Homo sapiens: one gene and its partners. The protein of the gene in region 1 purifies or fractionates together with the protein of each later gene. This does not show direct contact. Each region holds a gene or a part of one and is shown in the gene's direction. Other genes may lie near its edges.

What was found.
Region 2: the proteins of CHRDL1 (region 1) and LRP1B purify together in Homo sapiens (affinity purification with mass spectrometry; 2 studies listed by BioGRID and IntAct, with this or other methods). This does not show direct contact.
Region 3: the proteins of CHRDL1 (region 1) and ZNG1C purify together in Homo sapiens (affinity purification with mass spectrometry; 2 studies listed by BioGRID and IntAct, with this or other methods). This does not show direct contact.

What each region holds. Positions count from the first base shown.
Region 1 is NC_000023.11:110,673,754-110,681,267, reverse strand, and holds the end of CHRDL1 (chordin-like protein 1 isoform 1 precursor), read left to right. Parts: intron 1-1,842; coding exon 1,843-1,932; intron 1,933-4,906; coding exon 4,907-5,037; 3' UTR 5,038-7,412; downstream 7,413-7,514. UniProt on the Homo sapiens protein: Antagonizes the function of BMP4 by binding to it and preventing its interaction with receptors. Alters the fate commitment of neural stem cells from gliogenesis to neurogenesis.
Region 2 is NC_000002.12:142,127,739-142,135,354, reverse strand, and holds the start of LRP1B (low-density lipoprotein receptor-related protein 1B precursor), read left to right. Parts: upstream 1-4,338; 5' UTR 4,339-4,514; coding exon of another isoform or gene 4,515-4,625; coding exon 4,626-4,707; intron 4,708-7,616. UniProt on the Homo sapiens protein: Potential cell surface proteins that bind and internalize ligands in the process of receptor-mediated endocytosis.
Region 3 is NC_000009.12:68,251,729-68,259,242, forward strand, and holds part of ZNG1C (zinc-regulated GTPase metalloprotein activator 1C), read left to right. Parts: intron 1-5,192; coding exon 5,193-5,252; intron 5,253-6,803; coding exon 6,804-6,841; intron 6,842-7,514.

The sequences.
Region 1 (7,514 bases):
AAAGCTGCCTATTTCACACCACCAAAAGCTGGAGAAGCGGTTCTCAACCCTGGCTGCCCATCAGAATCATCAGGGAGAGTTTTGGTTTCCTTTAAATACCAAATATCTGGGCCCTACCCCCAGAGATTCTGATTAGTTGGTCTGGAGTGGGGCATGGGCATCAGTGTTTGTTCATAATGCTTCTCAGGTGATTGTAATATGTAGCCAGGATTACAAACTGTCAAACTGTAGTCTGTCATTCTTTCCAGAATAAAGCTCAACAACCATGAAAACCCATTCATTCAGGGCAAAGCTAAGTCCCTAATATCACGATGTGTCTTCTGGGGTAAAACAAATTTAAAACATCATCCCTGCCCTCAAGAAGGTTATAGTCTTACTGGAGAAACCCCAGTCACAATGTTCAATTCCTTTTCTGATTACTCACAGTGACTACCACAGCAAGCCACATTCTGTTCATTGTGATCCTACAGCTCTTCTAACTTTTTGTAGGCTCAAGACTAGTGCTTATTTAGTGTGGTCAAGGTTCCTCACAATCCAAGTGGATAAGTGAGATTTCAGCTGGAAAATATACACATCTTTTTGCTATTGGCTCTCACATAAGGCTCAAGAGTACTCGAACTTCTGTATGCATCACCATTACACAGGGAGCTGGTTTTAAATGCAGATACCTGGCCCCATCCCAGAGATAGGAATTCAGTAGACCTTGGGTAGAGTCCAAACATTTGAGTGTTTAACAAATAGCCAGATGATTCTAATGCAGGTGGCACTTGGACCATGCTTTGAAAAAGACTGCTCAGTATTTATGAGGCTTTTTTTCTCTCCCTTTAGACAACAGCCTTTATCTAAAGAATGCATTTCTCCCTAAAAAAAAGATGCTTGAACATGTATATATTCACTCATGCTTATTTTTGGTCTATGCCTTGGAGTGTTGATTTGCCATCTTTAACTCCCTAGCTCATCCATAACAGGACACCTAGGACTAGGCACTGGTTTGTTGCGTTTCCCCAGCAGTGGGCCCACTATTCGTCATCCCACATCTTTCGCCTCTCAGAGGTGTGCAGATGAATTTCAACTTGCTAATGTAGCGTCTAAATATCCTCTTGTTCACAGTTCTGGGTTATCAAGGTCTATGCTTGGTGGACACAGAAAAAGAGGCTTAATCTACTTCGCCCATTTAAGTGGGCTGGTAATATGTTGCTCCTTCAGTATAAGGCAGTTGTCAGTTGTCTACCTGTTATTGTGATAAAAGCTATTCAGGCAAGGTTGAGACTGTGGAGAGCACTCTATTTTAACTCTCCCCATTTATGAATAAGGAAGGCTAAAGGATCTGTGAATATTTCCCAAAGGAAAATATGCTTTTCAGTGAGTTCAAGAACAAGGGTGGCTTCTCCATTTACAAAACCAACCTGCCTGCAATCCCACTGCAGGCTCTCAGTGCTTAGCCAGGAGGGCAGCCCAGCGGTTTGGCATGGACACAGTCTATCCAGGTTGGGGGCAAGTGCAGAATTTCTAATACTGCCTATGGCTGCAGAAGCTCCAGTAAGCACTTATGCTAGATTCCATGTGGCTTTCCCTAGGAGAGAGTCCCATGGTCAGCAGCACTATCTCCCTTATCTCCATCCACTGGAGAAGCCGAGGGGAAGCCAGTAAGCCAAGGAAACAAATGGAGTCAATTATAACCCTTGAGCCATCCAAGTTCCTGGTTAAGCACATTACACAGCCCAACTCGATACTCTTAAGCCCTAGTAATGAAATGATATGCTGAGCCTGAGCAGAAAAAAAGGAGTTGATGGTTCCAGATTGAGTGCCTGACCATTTGCTCCACTTTTTGCTTGGCCCTAGGCATTCTCCAGCACTTCCATATTGAGAAGATCTCCAAGAGGATGTTTGAGGAGCTTCCTCACTTCAAGCTGGTGACCAGAACAACCCTGAGTAAGTAGTACTTCTCTTGACTGCTCCCTGAAAAACACATTCAGTTTTCAATTTAGCATAGCCACAGCTAAAGTCCCTCCGCAATCTCAGTGAACATTAGCACTGCTCAGTATCAACACTAAAGGATGTTCCATCTCTCTTCTGGGTGACTTAGCAGTGAATGGGGTGTCTGAATGTAATCTGAAGAGCTTGGACATGGTGAATACAAACCCAGATGTAGTCTGAGCATAGGATACCTCAGGTCAAGGCTTCCTGAATGTCTTTAATGAAACTGCTAAGCACAGAGTCTCAAGAGGGTTGGAGAAAGCTCATAAGATTCCAGGTCTGGTATATTTATGGAGACTTCACATCTGGAAGGGTGTATCCTCTGGTGGTGGGTATGAGAGGCAAAGAGAAATTAAAGGCATATCAATTCCTGTGTTATATGAAAGCACTTTTACTCCTGGGGAACTGCCCCTGGGTGGTCATGTTTCCTTAAAAGCATTCAGGCACTCAAAAACACTTGCAGCTCTCCCACTTTCCACACTAGATGGAGCCTAGGGACTAAGATACTTCTAGGCATTGGGGCGGGTGTTGAGCACTTCTAATGGGATAAAAGGCACACAGTTTCTATCCACAGGGAATTATAATGGATGAGACAGAACATGAAAATGACTTCAGTATGAATTAGTATAGTTCTGAGGAGTTAAATATCAAAGTGCTCAGGGGAATCTGCAAAGAACAATGAGATGAGAGCCAGGTGGGCTTAGTCGGGGAAGGCTTCGGGGAGGAGGTGTGTTTTGAAAGAGAAGGGTATGACTGGGCAATGGGTCAGGAAATCAGTCCAGGAAAAGAGTGCAGCCTAAGAGAAGACTCAGACAGGAGCAAACAGGAAATGTGGGTAGGGGAGAGGAATGATCACAAAGGCCACAGAAGGTGCACTAAAAGATTAGAAGATTTGGAGGTAGAAAGTAGTCATAGGGCCTGAAAAAAAGCCAGTAAAATGTTCAAATGTAAGGCAAGTAGCATCTGTAGTTGCTGCAAATAGCATAGAGATATCAACATGGTGCTTTGGAAAGATGTCTTTCGGCTATCAGATGCATATATTACATTAAGCACACACTTTGACGAAGCCAGATTATGAAGTGCCCAATTTATCATGCTAGGACATTGGACTTGATCTCCAGGCCAGAGAATGCCAGTGGAGGTTTTTAAGCAAGTGAATGGTGCATTCAGATCTGCTTTATTTATTTTTTTATTTTTTTAGAAAGAGGTCCTCGCTGTGTGGAGTGAAAGGTGGACCCTTATTAAGAGAAGTGGGATAGTCTGAATTAGGAACTAATTATACTATATTAAATCAATGAGACGGGAGGAGACGTCACTGTGAGAAACATTTCTGAGGTTAAATCAACAAGATCAGCATCAAAGAGAGAAACGAGTTTGGAATGGGTCCGATATTAATAACTCGACTGGGTGAATAGTAATACCATTCACCAACAGGGAAACTGTGAAGAATAAGCAGGTATTGGTGAAAAAGAGTTTCACTTGGAACATGTTTAAATTAATATGCTTAAGAGCCATCTGAGCAGAGTTAGGGTCCAATAGGCAGCTAGAAAAAGAGCCAAGGCAGTCAGTTGCTTGTCTTTGGCAGGACTCATAGAAAATAACAGGACAGTATGAGAATTCAAATGGAAAAGTTGGGAGTCCTTACATGTGAGTAAGAAAGGAGGCAGAGTGTAAGATCCTAGGATCAATTATGGGACTTCTGAAGTTACATGTTTTAGTTCATACTGTGAACAAGGCTTTGTTCTAGGTTCCAGGGGACTTAAAAGATGATTTAGATATACTCTGTGCCCATGGCAGGATTTGGGGTATATAATGGAGTAGAAGGTATGTGCCTCAAACTGTGTGTAGCTGAAAGAAGTTGGTATGATCCTACAGGGTCACCTAGGAGCAAAGAAGAACAAACCCAACTCTTTTATATAATGTGCCTAGCAGAGCCCAGCACATTATAGGGCTTCAGTAATAGCTGGTTCCTTGCCCAAATCCTCTTCTTGTTTTTTTGTTTTTCCTTCTATCTTCCCATTGAGTCATAGAGAATGGGGAAAAGGGAGAAATCCAAGGGAGAAAGGAGCAGAGAAATCAGGCCCATAGGGAAGGTGGGTCATTATTCTCTTGTGGCTAAGGAAAAGAAAAAGAGGTTCAAGACAGGTTTGGGCTTAAGAGGAGTTGGCTTAACTTGGACTAGGAGTTCTCCAGGTTGCAGTACCATGAGCACAGGAATAAAAAGAAGACAAAACACAGTATCCAGGGTGGGCAGAGACAACAGGGGATGGAAGGGCTACAGCCAAGTTTACTCTGCGTGGAAAGGGATTCCATGGGGTATATGAGAATGGATGAGGAACCATGGGAAGGGATTTAGGGTGCTAAGGGGGTATAAGGACAGCATGTGGACGTAGGAGAAAGCAACGTCGAGAAGTTTTTAACAAAAGATAGCAGGAATAGAGGAAAGAGTGATATATAATCAAATAGTAATCAAGTAACCCAAACCAATATTTGGGGACCCTAAGGGTAAGCAAAGCCCCAGTAATACAGTAGGTGCCGTTTTCCAAAGTGCCTTTTTGACCTGGTGCCAAGTAAGCTGCCTAAATAGCTAACAAGCAGATATTGAAGCATTTTGTAAATGCTAAATATACTGTAAAAATTCCAAGAATAACACTTAGGTTTTGCTCTTGAGGAGGGGCAGTTCTATATTATTCTTGGGATTCTTACAAATGCTATGTGTTGAAATGAAAACTTCATTTCCCATTTTCCATATCTGCTACTAGAAAAGTGTTTTGGGGCCATTTTTTGAAACCAAGTGATATTTGTATTCCAAATTCCCTGGTAGGTCCATGAGTAAGTGGGTAAGCATGGGGTATATTGGTTCTATTCCTAATTTGCTCTGCTTTCCTCTTACACACTCCCGGCCACTTTGCGTTTGTTTGCCTTTTAGGCCAGTGGAAGATCTTCACCGAAGGAGAAGCTCAGATCAGCCAGATGTGTTCAAGTCGTGTATGCAGAACAGAGCTTGAAGATTTAGTCAAGGTTTTGTACCTGGAGAGATCTGAAAAGGGCCACTGTTAGGCAAGACAGACAGTATTGGATAGGGTAAAGCAAGAAAACTCAAGCTGCAGCTGGACTGCAGGCTTATTTTGCTTAAGTCAACAGTGCCCTAAAACTCCAAACTCAAATGCAGTCAATTATTCACGCCATGCACAGCATAATTTGCTCCTTTGTGTGGAGTGGTGTGTCAGCCCTTGAACATCTCCTCCAAAGAGACTAGAAGAGTCTTAAATTATATGTGGGAGGAGGAGGGATAGAACATCACAACACTGCTCTAGTTTCTTGGAGAATCACATTTCTTTACAGGTTAAAGACAAACAAGACCCCAGGGTTTTTATCTAGAAAGTTATTCAAGTGAAAGAAAGAGAAGGGAATTGCTTAGTAGGAGTTCTGCAGTATAGAACAATTACTTGTATGAAATTATACCTTTGAATTTTAGAATGTCATGTGTTCTTTTAAAAAAATTAGCTCCCCATCCTCCCTCCTCACTCCCTCCCTCCCTCCTTCTCTCTCTCTCTCTCTCTCCCTCCCTCTCTCACAGACACACACACACACACACACACACACACACACACGCACGTCCACACTCACATTAAACGAAAGCTTTATTTGAAGCAAAGCTAGCCAAGATTCTACGTTACTTTTCCCTTGACTGGATCCCAAGTAGCTTGGAAGTTTTTGTGCCCAGGAGAGTAAATAACTGTGAACAAGAGGCTCTGCCCTTAGGTCTTTGTGGCTGTTTAAGTCACCAACAATAGAGTCAGGGTAAAGAATAAAAACACTTTCATAGCCTCATTCATTCACTTAGAAGTGGTAATAATTTTTCCCTAATGATACCACTTTTCTTTTCCCCCTGTACCTATGGGACTTCCAGAAAGAAGTTAAATTGAGTAAAATCATCAGAAACTGAATCCATGTAAGAAAAAATAATTGTTGAAGAAAGAAGTTGATAGAATTCAAAAAGGCCATCTTTTTGCTTTCACATCAATAAAATTTACCAAGTAATAGATCAGTACTCACTAATATTTTTGAGACCATAGTTGTCTGGTCAGAAAAATTATATTAAATTAGTAAATTCTAGAAGCTCTTTAAAAGGGAAGTTTTCCTTCTTCTCCAATTATAGGAGTTGATTTTTACTTTGCAAAGTGGCTCGGTCCTCATGAGCATCTGCATGTTGACTCTTCAGTTAAGAAAATTGTTGTTCATTTAGGGAGGTGGATATTCTGATGAAGATCTTTATCCTAAACCTTCCTACTATCCTTGTCTTATTCATCAAGCAGATATTTTAGTCAAGAATTCCAGAGAAGGCTGCTCCTAAAATGTCTACTTGCAGCCCAATACCAGAGCATAAACTATCCATTCTGGGGTCTGGCTTTAGAAATCATCTTTGTGGGAAGACCTAATTCTTCACAGCAAGGATCTCAGGCATGCCTTCTAGATTTGTTCCCTCTGAGGGGCAGGAATGAACTGTAGAAATGTTTTAAGGACCCAGAAACCCCATATGTCTCATTCCATGACTATAGGTGAGAGAATTCTTTCCTAAGAGGGTTTGATACCAATAGGGGAAAATGTAAAATGTTCAGTCTTTATGACAACCTGGCATAAAGGAGTCAATTCTTATGAAAGAGACACAAGGGCCTTATGGCCAGGGTTTCTTGGGACAAGACTCTCACCAGCACATCACACACGTTCTCCTTGGAAGAGAGAAGCAGTACATCCCGGTTGAGAGGTCACAAAGCATTAGTTTGTGTGTGTGTGTGTGTGTGTGTGTGTGTGTGTGTGTGTGTGTGTGTGGTAAAGGGGGGAAGGTGTTATGCGGCTGCTCCCTCCGTCCCAGAGGTGGCAGTGATTCCATAATGTGGAGACTAGTAACTAGATCCTAAGGCAAAGAGGTGTTTCTCCTTCTGGATGATTCATCCCAAAGCCTTCCCACCCAGGTGTTCTCTGAAAGCTTAGCCTTAAGAGAACACGCAGAGAGTTTCCCTAGATATACTCCTGCCTCCAGGTGCTGGGACACACCTTTGCAAAATGCTGTGGGAAGCAGGAGCTGGGGAGCTGTGTTAAGTCAAAGTAGAAACCCTCCAGTGTTTGGTGTTGTGTAGAGAATAGGACATAGGGTAAAGAGGCCAAGCTGCCTGTAGTTAGTAGAGAAGAATGGATGTGGTTCTTCTTGTGTATTTATTTGTATCATAAACACTTGGAACAACAAAGACCATAAGCATCATTTAGCAGTTGTAGCCATTTTCTAGTTAACTCATGTAAACAAGTAAGAGTAACATAACAGTATTACCCTTTCACTGTTCTCACAGGACATGTACCTAATTATGGTACTTATTTATGTAGTCACTGTATTTCTGGATTTTTAAATTAATAAAAAAGTTAATTTTGAAAAATCATCTGTAGTCTTGTTGCATAAGTAATTGACTCTCTGGTCAGTGCTGACCTTGGACAGGGTAACAAGTCATGGATGGGTGCGGTGGTTTCACAATAACCTTGAC
Region 2 (7,616 bases), on another chromosome or scaffold:
GTTTGAGAAATAACTTGCATCTAAAGTTTTTTATTTTTCTTAGAGGCTTTGTCCAGAGTAACTCTGTTTCAAGTTAAAGAACTGATGATGTTTCCTTAATAATCCTTTCTCTCTCTCTCTCTACCTCCTCCGCCCCCTGTCTCTCTCAGTCTCTTCCCTTTCTTTTTCATCTTGTGTCTGCTGCTGCCTGGCAACTTTTCTGTCTGGAAAAAGGCAGGGTAAGAAACTTAGCAGGCCTTGCAATGATAGCTGCAGAAATCCTTAGCAACCTAACTTTCAGGCCAACTCTCCTTCACACACATCTCTTCCATGAGACAGACTGTCAGCTCCAGCTTGTTTAGACACACGTCCTCTCCCTAACTTAACGATGTTCAGATGTGTAGCACAAATTGTTACTATCTACAGTAAGAAATCCAATCTCACAAAAATAATTAAGTTAGCAGAAATGAAATGTGATGTTTGATCACATGTATGGAAACTGTGGCTCTAATTGGGAAGTGTAAGATTACCACTGACTGATAATTAGCATTCATGTGTTGTTTTAAAACAAAAAGGAAGAATGATTGGTTCTACTTTGTTTAATTTATCTTAATGAGAGATTTCATAATATTCTATAGTTTGATGAATTAATTTAACTTGTCAGTGTTAATAACTCTGATTAGAATGAATAAATTATAATGGAGCCTAGTAACAAACAAAATTCGAACGCTCACTCAAGCTTTTCCCTCTTCACTAATAGTGCACTTTATTAATTTATTTTTTCATTAAAGCATATATTATGGGGAAACAAAAGTATTTCATAGAAAATTATACTTAAGCTTTTCATTTATTTATGATCCATTAACATTCAATGGTCATTTAAAACCTAGGAGCAAATTATTTAATTTTAAAGCTCAAATTTGGTCTACACTTTTATCAACCTCACTGATGCTCATAGAAACCAATCTTCTTTTATAAACTGGTCATTTTCAAAGAATATCTGGAAGAAGAACCACTTTATATAAGAGATTTGATGTGGGACAGACAATTTTATCCCATTTCATTTTGACACCGGCTTTATTTCAGTTTTGGAGCAAATATATATTTTCTGCTTAATATTTAATCTGTTTATTTCATATTTTGGCTTCTTGGTATGAATCAGTGTCCTTAGTATAAATTTTAGTCTTAAAAACTCTTAACAAGCATTTAAGTTCATGTGTTGTTGTCCACTTAAGTACTGGTGCATACCTAAGCACCTATACTTTCACCAAATTTTTGAGAGAGGTTTTATACCATTTAGATCTTTATTAATCATGGTCTTAAAATAAAGCTTCAATTTTTTTTTTTTTTTTTTTTTTTGAGATGGAGTCTCACTTTGTCCCCTAAGCTGGAGTGCAGTGGCGCGATCTCGGCTCACTGCAACCTCCGCCTCCCAGGTTCAAGCGATTCTCCTGCCTCAGCCTCCTGAGTAGCTGGGACTACCAGTGCATGCCACTACACCCGGCTAATATTTGTATTTTTAGTAGAGACGGGGCTTCGCCATGTTGGCCAGGATTGGTCTCAATCTCCTGACCTCGTGATCCTCCCACCTCATCTTCCCAAAGTGCTAGGATTACAGGTGTGAGCCACTGTGTCCAGCCTAAAGCTGCAAATTTTATTTTATAGATAATACTTCATTAAGATTAATTCACAGTGGAAATTAGGCTTATCATGTTACCTTTTATTGGTGCTCCAGCCTATACTTTAGTAACTAATCTTCCATATTTACTATCACTATTTTATAGTAACTGTTTTGAGTCCTATGTCATTCATGATTACTGACTTAATTGGTGATTACTTAAGAATTCTATTTTGCTTTATTATTCTGGTCACAATGTGCAGACAATGCATTTTTGATTTTTTTCCACTCAATGAAATAAAAAAGTCAACCAGATGATCTAAAAAGATCATATGGTTTTTACTCTGGCTAATTCATTTAACAGGCTATTAGGAGGCTCTACGTATTTGGAATGTTGTATATTTAGAATACAAAATCTCCTGAGTATTTGCTACTCTTATGATCTTTCCTAGCTTTTCCCTTTTCCAAGCTGACCATGGAATCTAGGGCTGCTGCACGTACTACAGAAGTGAATGAGTTAGTGATTTTTAATCATAGCATTGGGGCACTTTAGTATGTGGTAAAAGTCTTTGGTGGGTCATACTGTTCCTGGCTGCTTTCCTTTACTTTGCAGTGAAGTGGAGGGCGATTGGTGGTAATCTTTCAGAAGAGGAAGAATCTGGATGTCCTTAGTATGGTTTGTAAGCACTCCTCATTTTCTTGCCAAGAGTTAAGTGGATACAGATCTCCTAATAGCTGACCTTCTAGTTGACTGAATGGGATCATGTAAGAAAGACACCTGCTACGTTGTCCCAGTGAATAAGTTTGTCATACAATACAGAGGTCTGTGGACCCTCGAGAAAGAAACATTTATTACTTGGCACATCATTCAAATCTCTCTCTGTCTCTCTCTCTCTCTCTCTCACACACACACACACACGCGCGCACACACACATATTCTTTAAACTCTGCCACTCATTTCAAAGTTTGTGAATTTTCAGTATGAAGTAAAATATGTAAAAAAATCTTTTTATTCTATATTGTACACTATATTATGAAATAATAAAAACATCTAGGAAAAATTAGACATGTAACAACTTTAGAAGAAAAGAAGCATACACTTCTCTACTAAAAGTACAAAAAAATTAGCCGGGCATGGTCGTGGGCGCCTGTAGTCCTAGCTACTCCGGAGGCTGAGGCAGGAGAATGGCGTGAACCCGGGAGGTGGAGCTTGCAGTGGGCCGAGATCGCGCCACTGCAATCCAGCCTGGGCAACAGAGAGAGACTCCGTCTCAAAAAAAAAAAAAAAAATTAAGCATACACTTTTGAATGTAGGAGTCATATTTCAAACACAAAATGGTTGTATTTTCAAGGGAAAGTAAACTTTATAATTTAAAACATGGAAAAAGTGACATAAAATACATTTATAATCACAGAGTAAGAATAAAAAGGTGAAATCCACAGATTATTGACAATGTTCTGCAAAGTCATCTCTGTGTTCTTTCATCTAGTCCAGTTTTTAATGGCTTCAAAGGAGCATCTAAAGATATTTCTGGATAATTTTACTCTCATAAATAGGTAGATAGTAATGCTGGCATTCACTTATAAGTCTCAAACAGCAAAGTAAATAAAGCTTTTAAAGCATCTTCCTTCACTTTTCAATCGTTCTCTTCCTTAGTTCTGTTCCCTTCTCATAGTTTTCCTCTCCACTCATGTCCAGTTTCAAAATATTAAATATAAAACCTTTTCAACTCTTGTTCTTAGAAGAGAATTCCTGATGTTACAAGGAAGAAAGTAAGTCTACAACTATTAAGATTTCTGAGTTTTAATTCCGTAGCCACTTTGTAATGGCAAACTAAAATTTTAGGGACTGGGATGATCATGTTGTAAACTTAAGTGGTCATAAAAACAACTTTACTAATATTATTATTCCAGTGATTCCCGTTGATGCCTCCGATGGCTCGGGAAAGTTCTTACACCGCCCCTGTAGTATATGGAAAAGGAAAACAAAACAAAACACAAAACAAAAACAACAAAACCCTCAAAGCCTGTTTAAAATGGCTCGAAGTACCCTTTTAAAGACAGAACCCCAGAGAAAAACGCTGCCAATTCGTTGCTTTATTGTTCCCTGCCTGGGGACCTCAATAGCCTTTTCCATTAACCTTCCCTTCTTACGCAACGGTTAATGACTTTGGGGGTTGTTTTGCTTTCTGTTTCTGCTGAGTCACTAAATTTTGCCTCTTTGTCCCCAGGTGCTGCTCAGCATAAAAGTTAAAAGTGCAATTCAGGAAGTACTGGGATTCTGTGTAGAGCCGAGGAAACCATTTCCCTAAGAGAAGCTCTGTTCCTTGGCTTGTCCTTCCTTCCCGGGAAGGAAGCTTCCGAGGAACGAAGGGAGAAGCTTTGTTTTGCCTGCAGAAGCAGCCCTGTGCTCGGCTGAGGGTTCTCAGCTGGCTGTGAACTGCGGAGCATTGTAGGCGCCTGGCTGGCTCAGGCCAATGCAGAAGTCTCTCCCTTCTCCAAAGACCCAAATCCCCACAGAACCAGCTTCGAGTTACTTTCCCTTCAAGGGGATTAAAATAATTGTGATTTGTGGCGCTCTCCGTTCGCGGTGGTATTTTCCTGTTGTGTTAAATGCCTCTTATTAAGTAATAGATGTGATTTATGTGAACGACGAAGGGGTGTGTGGTGGATTCGGTGATTAATCAGTGAATTCCCATCCGCTGGCATCTCTCACTGCCCCTCTTGCGTGATGTAAGATCAGACGTACCCTGCATTGAAAAGTCAAGACACACGGGCGTCTCGCTCGCGCTCACACACGCTCTGCCTCCTCTCTCCCGCACGCGCGCATCCCTCCACCTTCCACATCCTGCTCCAGGCAGGAGAAGGCTGACTGGCTGGACTCATTGAGCTGAAGAATTTCCAGTGACATTTGTAAATGACGCCGCTCGATTCCAGGCTCCAAGCGGCCCCTGCCGCCGCCGCCGCCGCCGGGCCGAAGGTGCCGCCGAGCAGTCTCCAGCGCAGGCTTCCTTACCGGGCGACCACAATGTCCGAGTTTCTCCTCGCCTTACTCACTCTCTCGGGATTATTGCCGATTGCCAGGGTGCTGACCGTGGGAGCCGACCGAGGTAAGGAGAACACCTCCCCGCTCCCCTCCCCTGACTTCCTTGGCTTTCCTGCTGGGCGATGCTTGCAGATAAGTGAGTGTGAAACTTAAGTCCTTGCAGCTCCGCTCCCCGGGACCGGGTGACCACCGTGCGCTGGCCCTGTGCGGGGGTGAGAGGTGCGGTGCGGGATTTCTGAACCAAGTGCCTGAGTCCTCGGCACCCCCACAGCTTTTCCCTTTGGCCGTTTCCCGGTCCCCATTTTGTCCCCTCCGGGAGTGTGTGCACTTGGCTGTGCGCTTCTGTCCGCGAATTCTAAGCGCTGCAGATGTTGGAATGAGAATTCGCATTTCCGAAAGACTTCCCTCCGCGATGGCCCTCAACTGCGAGCTTTTGCGAGCTCCAGGTTCTCCGCGTTAAGCGTGTCCGCCCTCAACTTAGCTCCCAGGTTAACTTCCTTACCTGCTGCATTCGAGGTCCGTGGAGCGGCGAAAGCGCCGATTCAGGCCCCTTTCGTTTCTATAGCCCCTTCCTGGGGGCAGACTGGGGTCAGAGTCCTGTCATCAGCAGAGAGGCTTTTAGGACGATTCCGGGCGCACGCACCTGCTTGAAATTGACTTTTCGATTATGAGGGTCTGTGACACAGCCCAGGTGCTCTGAGGGGCTAACCCACCCCTGGAGTGCCTCTCTCCAGTCTGGCGCTTTGCTTTTCCTTTTTCTCCAAGCAGCTGGTGAATGGTAGAAGTTTAGAAGGGAATGGATATGGGGAGCAGAGGAGAAAGGAGGTAGGAATTAGAAAAAGCCGGGATTCTATAAACTTTTCATCTGGAAAATCAAGAATCCCTGTGCGAGTTTAATAATCTTTGACAACAGATGCACTGGTGAAAAAGGGAGGAAAATACTAGATGAATATTTGGGGCACTGGCCCTGGCCTTGGAATGGTTAACTGGTTAAAGTAAAATCAGAAGTATCATAGATTTTTTTAAAATCAGAAAATGAGCTTATATTGACTGGTATAGTTCAGCTTTTTAGTTTAAATAAGAGAGAGAGAGAGAGAGAGAGAGAGAGAGAGAGAGAGAGAGAGAGAAAGAGAGAAAGAAACCCAGATCCCAATGCCAAGCAAATAGGCAGAATGTTGCATTGGGAGATTTAGTTATTGTATTTACATGAAGCAGATTATGAATTGACAAAAAATATTGCTTCATTATAGGAAAGAACAGGGGAATGAACTGCAGTGTTTCTATTCAACCTGCTGTTGGCAGCCAGATTCTAGCCTTTGTAACATACCTACACGTGTTATTTCCTCTACCAGTGGTGGGACTAATCTGAGTTCCTTTAGGAAATCTGACACTTATTGGTGATAATCTTTTAAGCATATCATTGCCACCTAACCATAGCTTCTGAACTTGCTCAACTTGCCTTGAAGTTGGTGTGGAATGGTTGGAAACTATACTGATGAAATGGAAGCACATAGCTCGCCTTGAAATGATGATGTCTTTGATCTGGAACAATCAGCTCTCAACCTTTCTTAGGAAAAATGTTTGAAGTTGGACCAGAGCAGATGAACAGAATGGAGATTTTCAGCCCAGTATGCTAGCAAAATATAATGGTACTGGCAGACTACTGCTATTGGGCTCTTCCTGATTGAGTCTCCAATCTCCAGAAATTTGACTTCATCTAAAGCTGAGTTCTCAATGCTTTTGTATACATTTATGAGGATAGAACTACTGCTACCATGATTGGAGTAAATATCTGAAGAGAATTTTGTATAGAACATAAAAAATACAGACCCCACAACTTTCTTCTGAGATAGAATATTAAATAACTAAGAGGATTATATTTGGTGCCAATTTAGTTTCATGAGGGAGAGGAACATCTAAGATAGAAGCAGAGCACATGGTAAACGATTGCTAGTTTTTTTCTAAAAAATGAAATAGTGTCGTGTTGTATCACCACGTCCACATGAAGTACTATATCAGATAGCACAAGTAAAAATAATTGTAGACCAGCACTTTGCCACTATTATATATTTAACACACTTTCAAAACTGTTAGCAAAGAGCTAAAATTCTCACAGTTACCAAAAGTGAAAAGGATGGGCCCCATTTGGAAAAAGGAATTTTAAAGAGAGAAATCTTGTTGAAAGTTAAGAAAGAAAGTGTTACTGCATTATGACAAGCTTCCCTCACTAATATGCTGAAACAGAAGATATGGGAATATAAACTCAAGAAAGAGGTTAATGAGATGTAACTTTCTGCACAGGCTTATGTCAATCGTCCTTGAATAACAGAACAGGCATGTGAATTATACAGATGCGTTTTGTAGTGCAAGAGCTAACTGCTTGACAAAAAATGAGAATTCACATTTAGGTTCTACGTGTACTTATTGTGTAATAGGTAGCTTCTCAAACTGTATGAACTATATCAGAAGTGTTTGTATTACCTTCTAGCTGTGTTTTTCCTTTATACATTCATAAGTTCAAACATTGTATTAAATAGAACAAGGCTTGAAACTAACTCGTATGTTTATGTTCAAACCATATACGTGCACTTGTCTTTTAATTCCTTATTGTTTATTTTATTAGTTTATATTGATTCTATATAGAGCTAAACTAATGTACATGTAAGTTTTTATTACATTCTATCACATCTTAAAAAGGAAACATCTTTGTAACTCTTAACAGCCAAAATTGGAAGATAAATCAGATTCACTTAGAATCAACTAATTTGTCATATAACAATGTCATATCATATCAAAGTATTGCTTGATAAGGATTAAAACTTAAAAGGAAGTATATCTTAAAGTGTCAAATTTTCTGAAAAGGGATTGAGAGGCCTAATGCTAGTCTGTGTTAAATTCTCGAGTATGATACAATGTGGAGACACATTTCCAAATAATTAAAGTTCATGCTGTTATAGTCATTTTAATGTATCT
Region 3 (7,514 bases), on another chromosome or scaffold:
AAAGTCATCTGTGAGGGCTGGAATCATCTTTCAAACTCCTATTCATGTTGATACTTTGATCTCCCATGAATCACGAATGTTCTTAATGGCATCTAGAATGATGAATCCTTTCCAGAAGGTTTTCAATTTACTTTGCCTAGATCCATCAGAGGAATCACTATCTATGGTAGCTATAGCCTTATGAAATATATTTCTTAAATAAGACTTAAAAGTCAAAGTTACTCCTTGATCAGTGGGCTGCAGAATGGATGTTGTGTTAGCAGGCATGAAAACAACATTAATCTCCTTGTACATCTCCATCACAGCTCTTGGGTGATCAGGTGTGTTGTCAATGAGCAATAATATTTTGAAGGAATCTTTTTTTTTCTAAGCAGTAGATCTCAATGGTGGGCTTAAAATAAACCATGCTGTAAACAGATGTGCTGTCATCTAGGCTTTATTATTTATAGAAAACAGGCAGAGGAGATTTAGCATAATTCTTAATGGCCCTAGAATTTTCAGGATGGTAAATGATTATTGGCTTCAACTTGAAGTCACCAGCTGCTTTAGCCTCTAACAAGAGAGTCAGCCTGTCCTTTGAATCTTTGAAGCCAGGCATTGACTTCTCTATAGCTATGAAAGTCCTAAATGGCATCTTCTTCCAAAAGGAGGCCATTTCATCTCCATTAAAAATCTGTTGCTGGCCGGGCTCGGTGGCTCATGCCTGTAATCTCAGCACTTTGGGAGGCCGAGATGGGCAGATCACGAGTTCAGGAGTTTAAGACCAGCCTGGCCAACATAGTGAAACCCCATCTCGACTAAAAATACCAAAAATTAGCCTGGCTTGGTGGTGGGAGCCTGTAATCCCAGTTACTTGGGAGGCTGAGGCAGGAGAATGGCTTGAACCCGGGAGGCGGAGGTGGCAGTGAGCTGAGATTGCACATTGCACTCCAGCCTGGGTGACAGAGCGAGACTCCATCTCAAAATAAATAAATAAATAAATAAAAAATAAGTCTGTTGCTTAGTGTAGCTACTTTCATGAATGATGTTAGCTACATCTTCTAGGTAGTTTACTACAGCTTCTATATCAGCATTTGCTGCTTTCCCTTGCACTTTTATGTTATGGAGATGGCTTCTTTCTTTAAATCTTGTGAACCAACCTCTGCTACCTTCCAACTTTTCTTCTCTAGCTTCCTCACCTCTCTCAGCCTTCATAGAACTGAAGAGAGTTAGGGTTGCTCTGAATTAGGCTTTGGCTTAAGGGAACATTGTGGCTTGTTTGATCATCTATCCAGACCACTTCATATCAGCAATAAGGCTGTTTTATTATCATTTGTGTGTTTACTGGAGTAGCACTTTTAATTTCCTTCAAGAACTTTTCCTTTGCATTCACAACTTAGCTAACTGGCTCAAGAGACCTAGCTTTTGGCGTATCTTGGCTTTCAACATAACTTTCTCACTAAGCATAATCATTTCTAGCTCTTGATTTAAAGTGAGAAACAGGTGACTGTTCCTTTCACTTGAACACTTAGAGGCCATTGTAGGATATTAATTGGCCTAGTTTCATGTTGATCATATTCTTTATGTTGTCATGGTTCTGTCATAATTCTTTTAGTTCTATGTTTTAATAGTTTTGGTGCTCATTACCAGTACTGTTGCTTCTCCATTCCCGAGTTAGTCCATCTCCTGATTGAATTTCATTGTCAGGCAGTCTTTTCAAGTTACAGGTACTGCATGCATTCTTTGGGTTCTTATACACTTCATTGATTCAAAATATTTGTCTTTTGTTTTTATATTACTTGAAGGATTACTTGGCTCGGTATAAAATTTATCAGTCACACTTTTTTCCCCCTCAACTTTGTAAATGTTGTTCCATAATCTCCTAGTGTTTGATTGGCTGGATTTCTTTGTCCAATGTTTTCTCCTTTTATTAGGAAGAATTTGTGAGTATTATAGTCTCTGAGTTTCAATGCTTGCTGTTTTCTTTAATGCTTGAGAATGTCTGTCTATTGCTTTCGTTCCTGAAAAATAACTTGTTTGGGAACACTTTCATTAGAACTTTGTGGTCACTGTTTTATTATTTTGGGACATCTAGTGTTACTGTAGAAAAGTCTGATTTTTCTCCCTCCCTCCTTGAAGGCACTTTTTTTTTTTTAATCTAAAATGCCTGAGAGTTTTCTTCTTTATTTTTGAAATTCAGTAATATAAACAAGGTATATCTAAGTGTCACTTATAATCATTTTTCCCTAAATTATAATATGCCCTTAGTTCTTCTAAGAACATTTTCCTTGTTTGTTACCATGAATACTTTTTTTTGGTCAAATTATTAGATCCTCTACTTCATGACACCAGTTTTTTTAATACTGAATTTTCTTTTGTTCTTCGTATGTATTCTAATTGCTTTGATTTGTCTTTTACCTTTGCATTTACTGTGATCATCTGAAGCCTTTCTTTTTGTCAATAATTCTGTTTTCTCCAGTATCTGTCCTGTTTTTGATATTTTAAATGAATTAATTGGTTAAGTCATTGTGTTATATAGGCTCTAAGTTTCTTTAGCACTACAAACTGCATTTTCATCTTATTCTGCTTCTTGCTTTTGAGCTTGTTTATTATAAGGTTGTATTGTTTTCAAGTTCTTCATTATGATGAAGTTGTTGAGAATTTTCTTTAGTTTTTATTGGGTTATGTATCCTTCCAGAATGGGTTCTTTGCCACTTGTATGCCCTATTCATTTCTTCATTTTGTGTTCTTTCTTGCTTTTTATTCCCTGTATGTGTGTATTTCTTTTTGTCAGGCTGTAATACATATGCATACAAGTTTCTTCTTGATATGGGAGAACTTCTATGTGGTGCTGATGGGAAATATTTTTAATACTCCACTCTCCTTACCCAAGTTTGTTTTTCTCCTGAGCCCTAGTTTGAAAGCTGTATATTGTTGGAGTGGAGGGAAAGAGAAGGGAAAAGTGGTGATTCAGAGAGCCAAATGGGGCAATGTGGCTTTTAGGCTCTGCTCTCTTGAAGTACCAAGTATTTCACTCTTGGGTCTGCCCAACTGCTTATGAATAAAATTCCTTTGCCTTGTATGGGGACATCATTCGACCTCAGACCTCTCATTTCTCTTTGTTCTGAGCCCTAGAATGTGACCTGACCTTCTCCTTCCCAAAGCATGGAGATGGTTAAAACTCACTCTTGAAATTTTTTTGTTGACTTTTCCCTCTGTTGCTTATTCATTCCTCGGCTCTACTTTTTGCCATTTTGGAGTGTATTTCTGGTAAGTGTTTAGGATTTTGTAAACTATTTCCCTACAACCTCTTATTGGAGGTAGGGGTAGAGTTGGGAATGACCATCAATCACATATAACTTTGTTTCTTATTTTGACTATCAGTCTTCAAAATTTATGGCAGGCCCTTTTATATTTGGTTGCTGCTAATAAAATGTTGGCCTTTTTGTTTTATTTTTTATTTTTATTTTTTGTTTTATTAGATTTTGAAGAAGGGAGATTCTAAAATGTAGTTCAGGTTTTCTCAGTGTCAGCACAAATAACATTTTGGGTTGGATAATTATTTGTTGTGAGGGGGTTGCCCTGTGCAGAGTAGGATATTTAACAACATCCCTGGCTTCTACCCACTAGATGCCAGTAGCATTCCCCTAGTTAAGACAACCAAAAACATCTTCAGACATTGCCAAATATTCCCTGGGGAGAAAAGCACCCTGGTTTGAGAGCCACTAATCAATTTTGTTCATTCATCTTTACTCCTCCTAAATACCTACATCCAAATTTTAAATAGATCTTTCTCATGTAGTCTGGCAAGTATTATATCAAAGATAAATACCAGTTTTAGAATAAAGCATTAATATACTCTTACATTTCAACTTAAGAGGCAAATATTAACAGTAGGATTTGTAAACTATTTATTAGACTAAAAATCAATGAATTTTTAAAAATTACAAAATGATTTATGTATGTTAGATATTTTACTGAGTGAAAAAATTCATGCTTTTTTAAATGACTTATTGTTTGGAGTAGTGATACAGTAGATTTAATTTTCCCCCTCATTAATTAAAATCATGTTTTAGCCAAGAAAGTGAACAGAATTCTTATTGGCAATTCAGTTGTTTCCCATTTTGGAGACTGACACTCTCCAGTTCTAAGTTAAATAATTGTCATGGTAAAGTAATTTCCTTGAAAAGAACGGACATTGATTCAGCCCCTGTTACTCACAAATCCTATTTGAGTCAAATTGGAAAACTATTACGTTTTTGGGAAAAAAATCAATAGGTATCAGGAAACCATTAGATCTTGTGGCCCTTGCTATATCTTGCATGAGTAATCACTGTAAACAGCTGACCGGTATTTCATTGTTGACACAGAGTGATGCTTGGGGGACCACATCTTGTCAGAGCAGGTGGACAGCTTTAGACGTTGGAATGAGTTTGATTATCCTTGTTTTTCTCCTACACTCATTCTTTTAGACAGCCCTGTCACTAACTGGGCCTGTGATGCTTTCAAAAATCAAATACTTTCCTTGCTGTCAGTTTTCTTTTTCTTGCGTTGTGGCATACTAATCAGGGTATGTGGTTTGGTACTGAACCAATTTCTGTCAAAAGCAAGTTTTAATTTATTATTTAGGAAAAATTTTTCCTAAGACCCAGGTTTTATACAGTCCTAAATAAATAGTGTGAGGAATAATTAGTAATGCCATAGAGTATATAATTTTACTTCTAGTTCTACACAGATTACAAGTAAATTTTTTTTGGGCAAGTGATTTTGGAATTATCTATGTTTTGTTTTCCTTTTCCTTTAGAGTGATAATTCACTATTTATGATTGAATGATTATCATATTAAAGAGGTGAGAAAATAAAAATAAGTCTGATGTGCACAAAGCCATACTGCTCAAATTGTTTGATAATATCTGTTAATTAAATTATTATGGCATCGGTAGAAGAATGATGTTTTGTTTATATGTGGTTAGAATTGGTCTTTTTTAAAGGAAATAACGAGAGATGGAAATGGAATGGGTATAAATAGTAAAAGGTTCTATCACTATAATTCCCTTTTGCTATAAATAGTTAAAGCTTCTATCACTATAATTTCCATAAGAAGATATATGTGTTTACCTGTTAATTTTATCAGGGCAAATTAAAACATGGATAGAATCATGTTTCTCAGTGTGAAGAAATATTTTTATTTGATGAATATTATATATTTTCAGGTGCAGTGGCTTCTATGTTTTGGGTTGATGCTGAATTAGGGAGTGATATTTACCTTGATGGTAAGTTAAAAAACAGTTTTCTTTTATCTTTCTTGGTTTTTTTTTTTGTTTTTTTTTTTTTTTTCTGAGACAGAGTCTCACTTTGTTGCCCAGACTGGAGTGCATGGAGTGCAGTGGCATGATCTCGGCTCACTGCAATCTTTACCTCCTGGGTTCAAGTGATTCTCCTGCCTCAGCCTCCCGAGTAGCTGGGACTACAGGCGTGCACCATCGTACCTGGCTAATTTTTGGATTTTTAGTAGAGACGGGGTTTCGCCATGTTGGCCTGACTGGTCTTGAACCCCTGACTTCAGGTGATCCGCCAGCCTCGGCCTCCCAAAGTGCTGGGATTACAGGCGTGAGCCACCACACCCTGCCTCTTTTGTTTTTTAGTAAAATCTTTATGGTTAAGCTTATTGTTGTTCATTCATATTATAACTTTAATTCCTTGCATTGTTGTTCTTTTCACACTTTAGTTTAATGATGAAATCTTTGTTCATATAGATTAAAAAACCCCAAACAGTGGTGGAAATCGATGTCACTCAACTTCCAATTTAGTGCTTCCACTAAGGTTTTCTTTAAAAAAAAAAATGCTTTGTAGGTTTTCTGTATCCTCTGTTGTTTGATTTATGCCCTTAATATAATGTTAGAGCCTTTTATTTTAATCCTCCAGGCAATATGAGGATCATATTTTTGCTTTTATTTTCTCTTGAAGATAAGAATTAAACACTCCTCCCTTACTTTATTTACCTGAACACTTTTGGGCAATGATATGCCTTCATTTAAAATATATTAGAAACTTTCTTAGTTAAGCGACTATGTTTTCTCCCTTTCTCTTTCCCTTTTTCACCTTTTTAAAAACCAGTCGAAATTTTCTTACTTTTTCAAAAGTAATAATCATTAAGAAATTTAAGAATTATTAAGCTGGGCCCCATCATTGAGCTCTAATATATGTGGCGGGTAACTGGTTGAATTCCTTAGCATAATTAAACTCATTCTTTTGTTATCAGCATATATTCAGAGATTGCAAAATGAATTGGTAGTTTGGAAACTTAGGCATATGTTATGTAAAACATTTATGAGCTGGATTTGGATTTGGATTTGGTGAGAGATGTTAGGAATGATACCTTAAGATGTCTCATTCTTTAGGCAATAATTTAAATCTTAAGAAAAGTCTTGATTTTGATTATGTGAAAATAAACTAGAAATAACCTGTCTTATGTACTTATCACATTTGACTATGTTATGAAATTTGACTTATATTTTGGATTGTAAGCTTTTTCAGTGCCAAGGAAATCTTATTTTCTTATTTATTTAATTTAAAATTTTTATTTGTTTTATATCTTCTCTAGTGCCTTAAAATAGTGCTAGCCACTCAGGAAATGCATTGACTTATTACTGGAATTTAATTAAATGGCAGCACTGGCAAGAGAAAAAAACAGTACATTGTTTTATTGAGTAGTATTTGTGAACTGAAATAGGTTAGTTTTAATTTTCATTCTGAAGTATGGTTGCACAAGTATTAATAAGCATTCTTTTTAAAAAGTGATTAAAATGTTTTTTCCTTTGTAGGTATCATAACTATTGTGGATTCAAAATATGGATTAAAAGTAAGTTGAAAGATTGCTATGAGTGGCTCATTATTGAGAGCTGGGAATATGGGGATTGATTGTTTAATTTTCTTTATGTTTGTATCTGAAATTTTCTTTAACAAAAACCTTTCTCAAAAAGATATCCTGAACAATAGGTGAAATTTGTGTTTTAATTATTAGTTTGTGTTAAATATTTCTTTTCTATTACTCTGAGTTTGATTTGGTGATAAAATTTGGAATTATAATTTGTAATAAGCATATGGGGTTAGGATAGAGTTTGGTATGTATAGCTCTTCACAAGGATTCAACCCCAATATTGCTAAGTTTTTCTGTTCCATAGAAGAAGCTGAGCTTGATAAAGCATCTGAGATCTTATTTTTCTTGTTAAATTACTATTAAACACACACTGGAAATGAGTTTTTAAAAAATATTGAAGACCTAGGTGATGGGTTAATAGGTGCAGGAAACCACCATGGCACCCGTTTACCTATGTAACAAACCTGCACATCGTGAGCATGTACCCTGGAACTTAAAATTTAAAAAGTACATATTGAAGAAAATCAGGATATACACATAGGATTAGTAAGAAGACTCTCTCCATTAAAAGGCATCTTGCATCGCTTCTTGGTCTTTTGGCTAAGATCAAGTGTAAAAGACATCCTGCTATGAATGTTTTTGTTAACTTCTAAGG